2 separate regions of the Homo sapiens genome follow, and region 1 is linked to region 2. The links come from fine-mapping of genetic effects on gene expression. A gene starts in region 2. The other region holds a variant in brackets. All regions are shown on one strand. Distances are from middle to middle. Region 1 overlaps SHISA5 (shisa family member 5). Region 2 holds the start of PLXNB1 (plexin B1).

Region 1 (4,175 bases), 71 kb before region 2:
TTAAAGGGTTAGGAATTGGAACAATCCCCTGCCCACCCATGGGAAGCCAAAGACCCTTTTGGGGTGGGTGGCTTCGTGGAGGGGAAGGCTGTATTTCCTGGGGGCTGGGATGAATCCAGAGGACCTGGGCTAGAGAAATGAGAAAGGGGAGACTTGTGCCCAGAATCCGCCCACTCCTGGAGTGAGCCTGTAGGAGGGTCGGTCACTGATTCAGTGAGGTCTGGGGGTCAGAGAGCATTTGTGCCATGGACTCAGCCTAAACAGCCTCACCGGTGTGTCTTCAGCCCTAGCTCAGAGGCTCAGATTGGGCTGTGAAGACCTTGCTGCATATGGGTTCACCTGAGCCACCAGGCACGGGCCATGCTGATGATACCAGCTTTCAGGTGGGCAGCTGGCCAAACTGGGCTTGTCAATGGTCCAATCCTCTGCTCCATGGCTTTGCCCAGAGCAGGGTTCTGCCTGGAGCTGCCAAGAAGTGCAGTTCCCCCCAACTCCCCACTAAAGTTCCCTCTTCCCAAGGAGGTCACTTGGTGTCTCTGTCTCTGGGCTTCACTCTACTGACAGCCTCGGGGTGTGTGGTGTCCTGATCAGGCCCGGGCACCAGATGCTGCACATGGCCAGGTGCCTGGCCTGGCTGGGTCTCCAGAGGCCACGTGCTATGGCAGACTGTTTCCAGGCCGATGTAGTTATGCCTCAGGGCTATCATCAGACCTGTCCCCTGCCTACTGCGGACTTGTGGGCCTTGCTGGACTAGGTATTCTCTTTGGAGTCTGCCCTGGCAGAATCCGGTACTGTTCCTTCCTGTTAGTGGGCACAGGTCTCTGCTAATGTAGCCTGAGGATACATGGGAACATTTGACTGTAGCATCTTCCTGGAGGTTTGTAAACCTTGTGGTCATCCAAAAACCTGGGTTATTTTCCACATTTGTTGTCAGCCAGATCCCCTCAGCATGACCTCGTTTATTGAGACTTGTAAGGATGTCAGTAGATCCCAACTCTGTGCTGAGAGTCTTGTGATGGCTCCAGGGCTACAGATGGTGCCACTGCCTTGGAGCCCTGTTGCCCAGGCTGGTCTCAAACTCCTGGAAGGCACAGACATTTCCTGGACACCTGCTGCAGGCCCAGCGCGGGGCTAAGTGCTTTATGAACGCTGGTATGGTGGGTGTGACAATTTCTGACCAGGATCTAGCCTGCCATCATGGTTATGGGGTGGTCTGTGAGAGCCAGGCCCCTGCAGTTGTGGTGCCCAGCAGGGGCTGAGGTTGCTGTGGTTGAGTGAGGGAGAGAGTGAACGAGGATTAAGAACTAGACAGTCTGGCTGGGGTGCGGTGGCTCATGCCTGTAATTTCAGCACTTTGGAGGCCAAGATGGGTGGATCACCTGAGGTCAGGAGTTCAAGACCAGCCTGGCCAACATGGCGAAACTCTGTCTGTACTAAAAAATACAAAAAATTAGCTGGGCCTGGTGGCAGGCACCTGTAATCCCAGCTACTCGGGAAGCTGAGGCAGGAAAATTGCTTGGATCTGGGAGGCAGAGATTGCAGTGAGCTGAGATCGCACCACTGCACTCCAGCCTGGGCAACAGAGTGAGACTCTGTCTCAAAAAAAAAAAAAAAAAAGAAAGAAAGGGACAGTCCAGTGTCTGGTCCCCTGCAGGTGTTGAGCTGTGTGACTTCTCGCCTGGGCAGCTTCTGGAGGAGGCCACCTGGAGTAGGGCCTTGAAGGATGAGTAGAGTTGAAAGGCAGGAGATAGGAACCAGGCAAGAATGTGAGCGGAGTGTGGACAGGTTGGAGAGCTGGAGTGATCTTCAGGACTCTGCAGTTTAGACCCTGCTTGGAAACTCGGGCCTTGATCCTGAAGCAGTGGGAATTAGGGGAGGTTTGAGAGCAGGGTGTGGCCCCATCAGACTCACATTGAGAAAGTTCACCCTCCTATCAGGAGGCCAGTGCACTGGTGAGGGAGAGAGGGAGCCCAGTTAGGGCAGCTCTGTTGTGGCCCGTGGGATAGGGCAAGGCTGAGGGGGAGCAGTGGCCAGGGGTCAGAAGGTGGCCTGTGGCTAGGGTGGCTCAGAGACGGTGCAGCATGTGTGTGTGTGTGTGGTCTGGTGGCTGTGCCAGGGAGGGCGCTGTGTCTGCTGGGGCCTGGCCCGTGGGCACAGGTGAACAGATGTGTTTCTCCTCTCCAGCACGTGGTGAGGTGTGTATGGCTTCCCGTGGACTCAGCCTCTTCCCCGAGTCCTGTCCAGATTTCTGCTGTGGTACCTGTGATGACCAATACTGCTGCTCTGACGTGCTGAAGAAATTTGTGTGGAGCGAGGAAAGGTGTGCTGTGCCTGAGGCCAGGTGGGTGCACCAGTGGGTCACAGG[G/A]TGGGTGGCTTGAGCCTGTGCCCCACAGGAGAGTATGTGGAAGAGAGATAGCTCTGCCCCTCTGGCCTCTCAGCCCTCTCAAGATGGTGGCCAGAGCATTGGAGCAGAGGGTTTAGGGATCCCCTGTTCTGGGCTGGACCCCCTAGACCTGCTCAGTTAGTCCCCTGTCCATCTCCTCCCTACCCTGAGGGCTCCAGCTTGCTGAGCCTTGGGCTGAGCAGGTTTCTTAGAGGTCCTTGGCCTCAGCTGGTCCTGTGACTCACCCCGGGTGTGTACCTGTGCCAAGATGTCCTCAGGGTGGGTACTTGGGCTTGACTATACCCCACAGTATGCGCATGCCCCTGAGGGGTATCCTTTGTTCAGAACCCGCTTGTGGAGCCTGTAGGGTGCAGTGCGTAAGCATGTGCCCCAGTGTGAGCTCTATCTGTGTCCTCCCAGCGCAGCCTATGAATTTACCTGCATGTTGGGTGTAGACTGTTTCATGGCTGGGACCAAGGTTCCAGGCCCCTGTGTGTGGCTCTTTGCCGTATTCTGTATTTCCTTTGTGTTTGGCCTCGGTGTAGAGGGTTGAGATGGTCATACTCCTCTGCTCATGGCAGGTGATCATCCTGGGTCTGGGCAAGACCAACCCCCGCTATCTTACATATTTATTTTTGTGAGATGGAGTCTCACCATGTTGCCCAGGCTGGTCTCATACTCCTGGGCTCAAGCCATCCTCCTCCCTCAGCCTCCTGAGTAGCTGGAACTATAGGTGTGCACCACCATGCCTGGCCTATATATTTACTTTAATATGTCAGGACCATTTCATTCCTTTCCCACCCCACAGGCAACCGTCTGCTATGGTCTGCTATGTATAAGGTACATCCTTTTCATTATTTGAGTTCTTGCAAAGTCGGTGTAGTGTAAGACCTAGCCACATTGCTGTGGCACATCTGGCCCTTGCCCACTACTGCTGTGTCCCTCTGAATGGTGTGAATCCACAATGGTTGTCATGATAGATAGCTTCAGTGGGCATCTGGTATACCTCCTTTTATGGAGCTGTGTAAGAATTCTCTTGGAAACACATCTGGTTGTGGAGTTGCCATGTCATAGATGCACACAGTTATCCACTAAGGACTTCCAGGTGCTCTTGGGAGTGGTGCACAGGGCTGCACACCTGTCAGTCCTGCCTGAGGGTTCCTGACAGGTCTTCTTCTACCCTTTCACCCTTTCACTTCACCTTTTGGCTTTTTTTTTTTTTTTTTTTTTGAGACGGAGTCTCACTTCTGTTGCCCAGGTTGGAGTGCAATAATGTGATCTCGGCTCACCGCAACCTCCGCCTCCCGGGTTCAAGCAATTCTCCTGCCTCAGCCTCCCGAGTAGCTGGGATTATAGGCGTGCACCACCACACCTGGCTAATTTTTGTATTTTTGTATTTTTTTTTTTTTAGACAGAGTCTCGCTCTGTCACCCAGGCTGCAGGCTGGAATGTGGTGGTGCGATCTTGGCTCACTGCAAGCTCCGCCTCCCAGGTTCACGCCATTCTCCTACCTCAGCCTCCCAAGTAGCTGGAACTACAGGCGCCCGCCACCACGCCCGGCCTAATTTTTGTATTTTTACTAGAGATGGGGTTTCACCATGTTCACCAAGCTGGTCTTGAACTCCTGACCTCAGGTGATCTGCCCATCTTGGCCTGCCAAAGTGCTGGGATAACAGGCATGAGCCACCGCGCCTGATGGTATTTCTTTTTTTAAAAGCAGGAGCATTTATTCCATTTAAATTTAATGTAGAGGGCCGGGGGTTGCTGTGGCTCATGCCTGTAAGCCCAGTAC
Region 2 (4,175 bases):
TCTACATGCTATTCAAAGCCAGCTAACCCCTGGCCCCTCCTCCAGAGGGTCTGAGGCAATAGCTGTGAATGTGGATTTAAGTAGAGAATCGTAGCAATGAAGCGAGCCTTTGGGGGCATGTACAACCTCAATCTGAAGGAGCAGTATCTGTGTGGCTCACCAGCAGGCATGCTTCGCTTTGTAGACAAGGTTCATTTACATTAATTATCAAAACTTTGTGCTAATGTCCAATTAAAATATCCTGAGTTTTATTATTTAAAACAATCAGACTGAGTTTTTTTCATTAAGAATCAAGATCCAAGACTTGAAGGTTGGGCCTGGAGTTGGGGTAGTCACCCCCTTTAGTTCCTCTCTCATCTCCTCTCTGTCCTCTTTTCTGAACTGTTATGGATGCACTCCTGAGGCCTAGATTTTCATTTTGGATTTCCTCCAGTTACCTGACTGTCCGGTGTCAGATGGCCTGGGAGTTCCAGTGAGTGGAACCTAGCCTGCTGCCTACTCATTTCGTGACCATGGTTGCTTCCCATCTCCTGGATCACTTTCTCTACCATGTGGGGGAGAACTTCCTGGTTCTAGTACTGGAGGAGTGATCAGAGGAGAGCAGGGAAGGGAGATTGGGAGAATGGTTGATAAATGTTGCTGGGGACATAAGTATAGGGATTGGTGGCCAGTCTGGATCCCTGGTACAGAGATTGCTTTGGGCAGCAGTGGTGTGCCACGGGGGCTGGGTGCACACCCCCACACAGCCCGGGGATATCTTCCACAGGCATAGGCAGAGCTCAGGACACCGGGAGTGTGCATGGAGAGGCAGTGATAGGGAGGGGGGGGTCTCCCACAGGTGGGAGGTGCAGTGGGGCATATGTATGATCTCTTTTCAGAGGGGAACAGTGACCCTTGACCTTGACTAAATGGCCATGGGTGGCCTTGTGTGCCCTGAGTAAACAGGAGCTTTGGGCTGGTATTCAGTCCTGGTGTTGGAGTATTGGAAGTCAGGCACATTCCAGAGAACCCACTCCCCTTTGAGAGCGCAGGGTAGCTATATGCAGGGGGGCCGCAGGTGGGGACTCGTTCACTGGTGCCTGTGCAGAGCTCTCAGAGCCTGTGGAGTCAGGAGTGTTTCCCATAAGGCATACTTTCTTCTTGGAGCCTGTGTTCAGTCTTGGGCAGTGAGCATGGCCCAAATGCCCCCCACCCCAGGTTCTCAGCACCTGGTCCCTCAGTCAATCTATCCTTGGCGAGTAATGGCTCCCCAGAATGGCATGGGATGGAAAGACCCCTGTGCTTAGAGTGTTCACATTCCTTGTAGGGCAGGAGGTAGCGTATCTGTGTACAGATGAAAGGGGTTGTGGGGTTTGGAAGTCCCAGTTTCCTCTGGGGTGAGATAGGTCCTGAAGTGTGTGCTTGGATGAATGGATTTGGGGAGGGAGGGATTCTGTGCATGTGGAGGGGGCTGCTACAAGCTACATAGGCAGGAAAGCCAAAGTGGGTGAGGGACTGGGGCAGACTGTCCTGGCTGGGGTGGTGATGGGTGTGGGGGAGTTGTGCAGAATGATGTCACAGGCCCGGGGTGCCAGGTTGGCAGTCTGAGGTCAGAGGCTAAGGGTGAGGGATCCAGGGAGGGATTGCTATGCTGGTGCAGACAAGGTGCTAAGCACCTGGACTCAGGTGCTGGAAGTGGGAGTGGAGGAAAAGGGGTGACCTGACAGGAGACCCTTGATAGCTGGTGGGAGGTGGGAAGAGGGTGTCTCTAGCTCTAGGGCAGTAGCCAGTGTGGATGACCTGAACCTCCTGATTGAGGCTCCCCTAGCCTGTGGAGGCCTTGGAGGCTTTCAGATGATGCCTGTGACGTTTTTGCCTCCCAGGAAGCTGTGCCAATGGCTTTGAGCCAAAGTCCTCCAAAAGTCCTAATAGGATGGGCCAGGTTCTGGTCCTGAGTTAGCCGTGGGCATGCCAGGGTGTGAAGGGCCCTGCACAGGGTACAAATGGTCCCCAGGAGAGAACCTTTCTGCCAGCGTTTCCTCCCGCAGAAGGCCCAGGTGTTTGCCAGTGAGGGAGCCCAGACTTGCCCAACGCTTCTCAGCTTGGGGTGGGTCCAGGTCTGGGTCCTGGGCTGGGAAGAAAGGAAGGAAGTGAGCCCTTGCTTGTGCGCCTCTGCAGCCCAGGTTCCCTGCCTTCACAGCCCCGCTAGAGGTGGGATCACCCCCACTTACTGGTGAGCAAATAGGCTGGGGGGGGTTGGTGTCAGGTTACATGGTTTAGTTGATGGCGCAAGCCCAGGTCCAAAGCCCATGCTCTTCTCAAACAGCCAGAGGTGGGGGCCGGAAGGAGGGATTGGCTGTTGGGGAGTAGTGGGAGCAGGGGCGGTGAGCAGGGGCGGTGGGCAGGGCCAGGTGCGCAGGGGAGAAACAAGGCGCCTTGGAGTTCAGGTAAAGAAAGTTGGGGAGGATGACCACCGGAGCCGGGTAAGGAAGGGAAAGGGAGCTCCGGGCGCGGGGCGAGGCCGGGCGCTGGCAGAAGAACGGGTCGGGCTGGTGAGGGACTCGGGTGCTACCCGGCTCTGGACGGGCGGGAAGAGGCCGGGACGCTGTTCCACCAGCACCTGCGGGTGCGGAGCGCGACCCCCCGCCTCGGCTCCTGGCAACCAGGAAAGTTCCCAGTTCCGGTTCCAAGGAGGCGAGCAGGTGAGGCCGACGGGGCGGGGCGGCTCTGGCTCCCGGGGTTCACTCCTCACCCCTCCGGGCGACCCGCGTTGCCATGGCGACCGCCGCGGTGCAGCCCGCCCCCGCCCTCCCCCGTGCGGGAGGGGTCGGGTCCCCAGCCCTCGGCCGATGCGGAGCCCGCGGGGCTGGAATGCGGGGTCCCGGGCGGTTCGGGGCCGCGCGCCCGGCTCTCCGGGCTGCTTCCGGCCTGGCCCGGGCGGCGGGCGGGGGGAGGGCAGCCCGGCAGGCGAGGGGGAAGGAGCGGAGACGAGCCCGGCCGACGCGGCTTTGTCTCCTTTGTTCCCGGCGGTGGCAGCGCCGCGCGGGAGGGGCGGGCAGCGGGCGCAGTTTTCCGCCCCTCGGTCTCCGGGTAACAGCTGCGGCTCCGCCAGACCCGGGGAGAGGCCGCTGCGCGCGGAGCCCGAGCCCGGAGCGGCCGACGCCCGCCTCGGCGCGCACATCCCGCGGGGCCCGGCCGGGTGGTGAGTGCGGGGCTCGGGGCCAGGGCGGCGAGGAACGGGGCTCCCGAGGTGGAACGGGCCGGGGCCCCGATCCCGCCGGGCAGGGGCGGCCTGGGTGAGTGGTGGGCGGCTTTGGTTTTGAGAGTTGGGACCACACTTCTCCGCGCGAAGGGAAACTCTGGCGACTCCGCCTGGAACGCGATTGGGAGACTGAGGAGGTGGAGCTGCTCCTCCGCGCCCCCTCCTCGCCGTCGCCGCCGGGGACCGGCCGGCCCCTTCCCCGCCCTCCCAGGGCCAGTGATGGGGTCCTCGCCTCGGGGTCTGGGGGTTGGGGAGGGTCAAGGACGAGCCGAGTGGGGAGGTCGGGGCTTCCCCTCAGTAGTAACAGCCCTTTCTGGCTGCTCCCGGTGGGACTGACAAAGGCGGACCTCGAGCCTCCTGACCCCCGGGCGGGTGGGGGGGACCCTCCTCTCCACACACAGACATATTAAGTGGGTGATCGATGAGCGCCTTGGGTCATCGCAGGTGCCTGGTAAATGGTGGATCTCCCCACCCCTCCTCAACACACAGAAAACAGGGCGGGCAGCGGGCACCACTGCACTGTCAATGAATAACTCACCTCTGTAGTGAACCCTGGGAGCTGAGCAGGAGGGTGAAACGGGAAGGCCGGTTTCCCACTAACTGGCAGGCAAGGCAAATGTGGGCTGTCCTATGGCCCCTCTGCAGGTGCGGAATGGCGGGGTTTGTGAGCCCCTTTTGTTGTCGAGGACAGCTCCACGGGGGTCCGGGAGGTGCTTGCTCTACAGACAGAAGTTGGGCAGTCTTGCGCCCCCTGAAAAGGTTCAGAGTAGGGTGGCCCCAGAAGAGACTCCAGGGCATGTGTGGGGGAGCACTGGGCACAGGCAGAGTTAGGCTTTGGCTGTGAGTCTGAGCAGGGCCTCAGATATTGGGAATGGGCAGGAGATCCTGGCTGTGTAAGTTGGGGATGTGAGGTCTGGTTCTAGATCAGCCTTTT

Evidence for each region. PIP is the estimated chance that this variant, and not a neighbour inherited with it, causes the effect.
Region 1: its variant is the best candidate, but not a certain one, in a credible set for the expression of PLXNB1 in whole blood (TOPMed, PIP 0.71).

The regions. Positions count from the first base shown.
Region 1 is chr3:48,499,303-48,503,477 of GRCh38, reverse strand. SHISA5 (shisa family member 5) reads left to right here. Exons shown (of 6, transcript NM_016479.6): 2 at 2,185-2,341. Among named protein-coding and RNA genes, the nearest start is that of SHISA5, 2.8 kb to the left of the region's middle. The variant G/A (reference allele first, on the strand shown) is at 2,366.
Region 2 is chr3:48,428,259-48,432,433 of GRCh38, reverse strand. PLXNB1 (plexin B1) reads left to right here and starts at 2,348. Exons shown (of 38, transcript NM_001130082.3): 1 at 2,348-2,426. CCDC51 (coiled-coil domain containing 51) reads left to right here. Exons shown (of 4, transcript NM_001256964.2): 4 at 1-261. The coding sequence ends at 26. RefSeq lists enhancers at 1-47, 1,401-2,394 and silencers at 2,635-3,234, 3,315-3,394.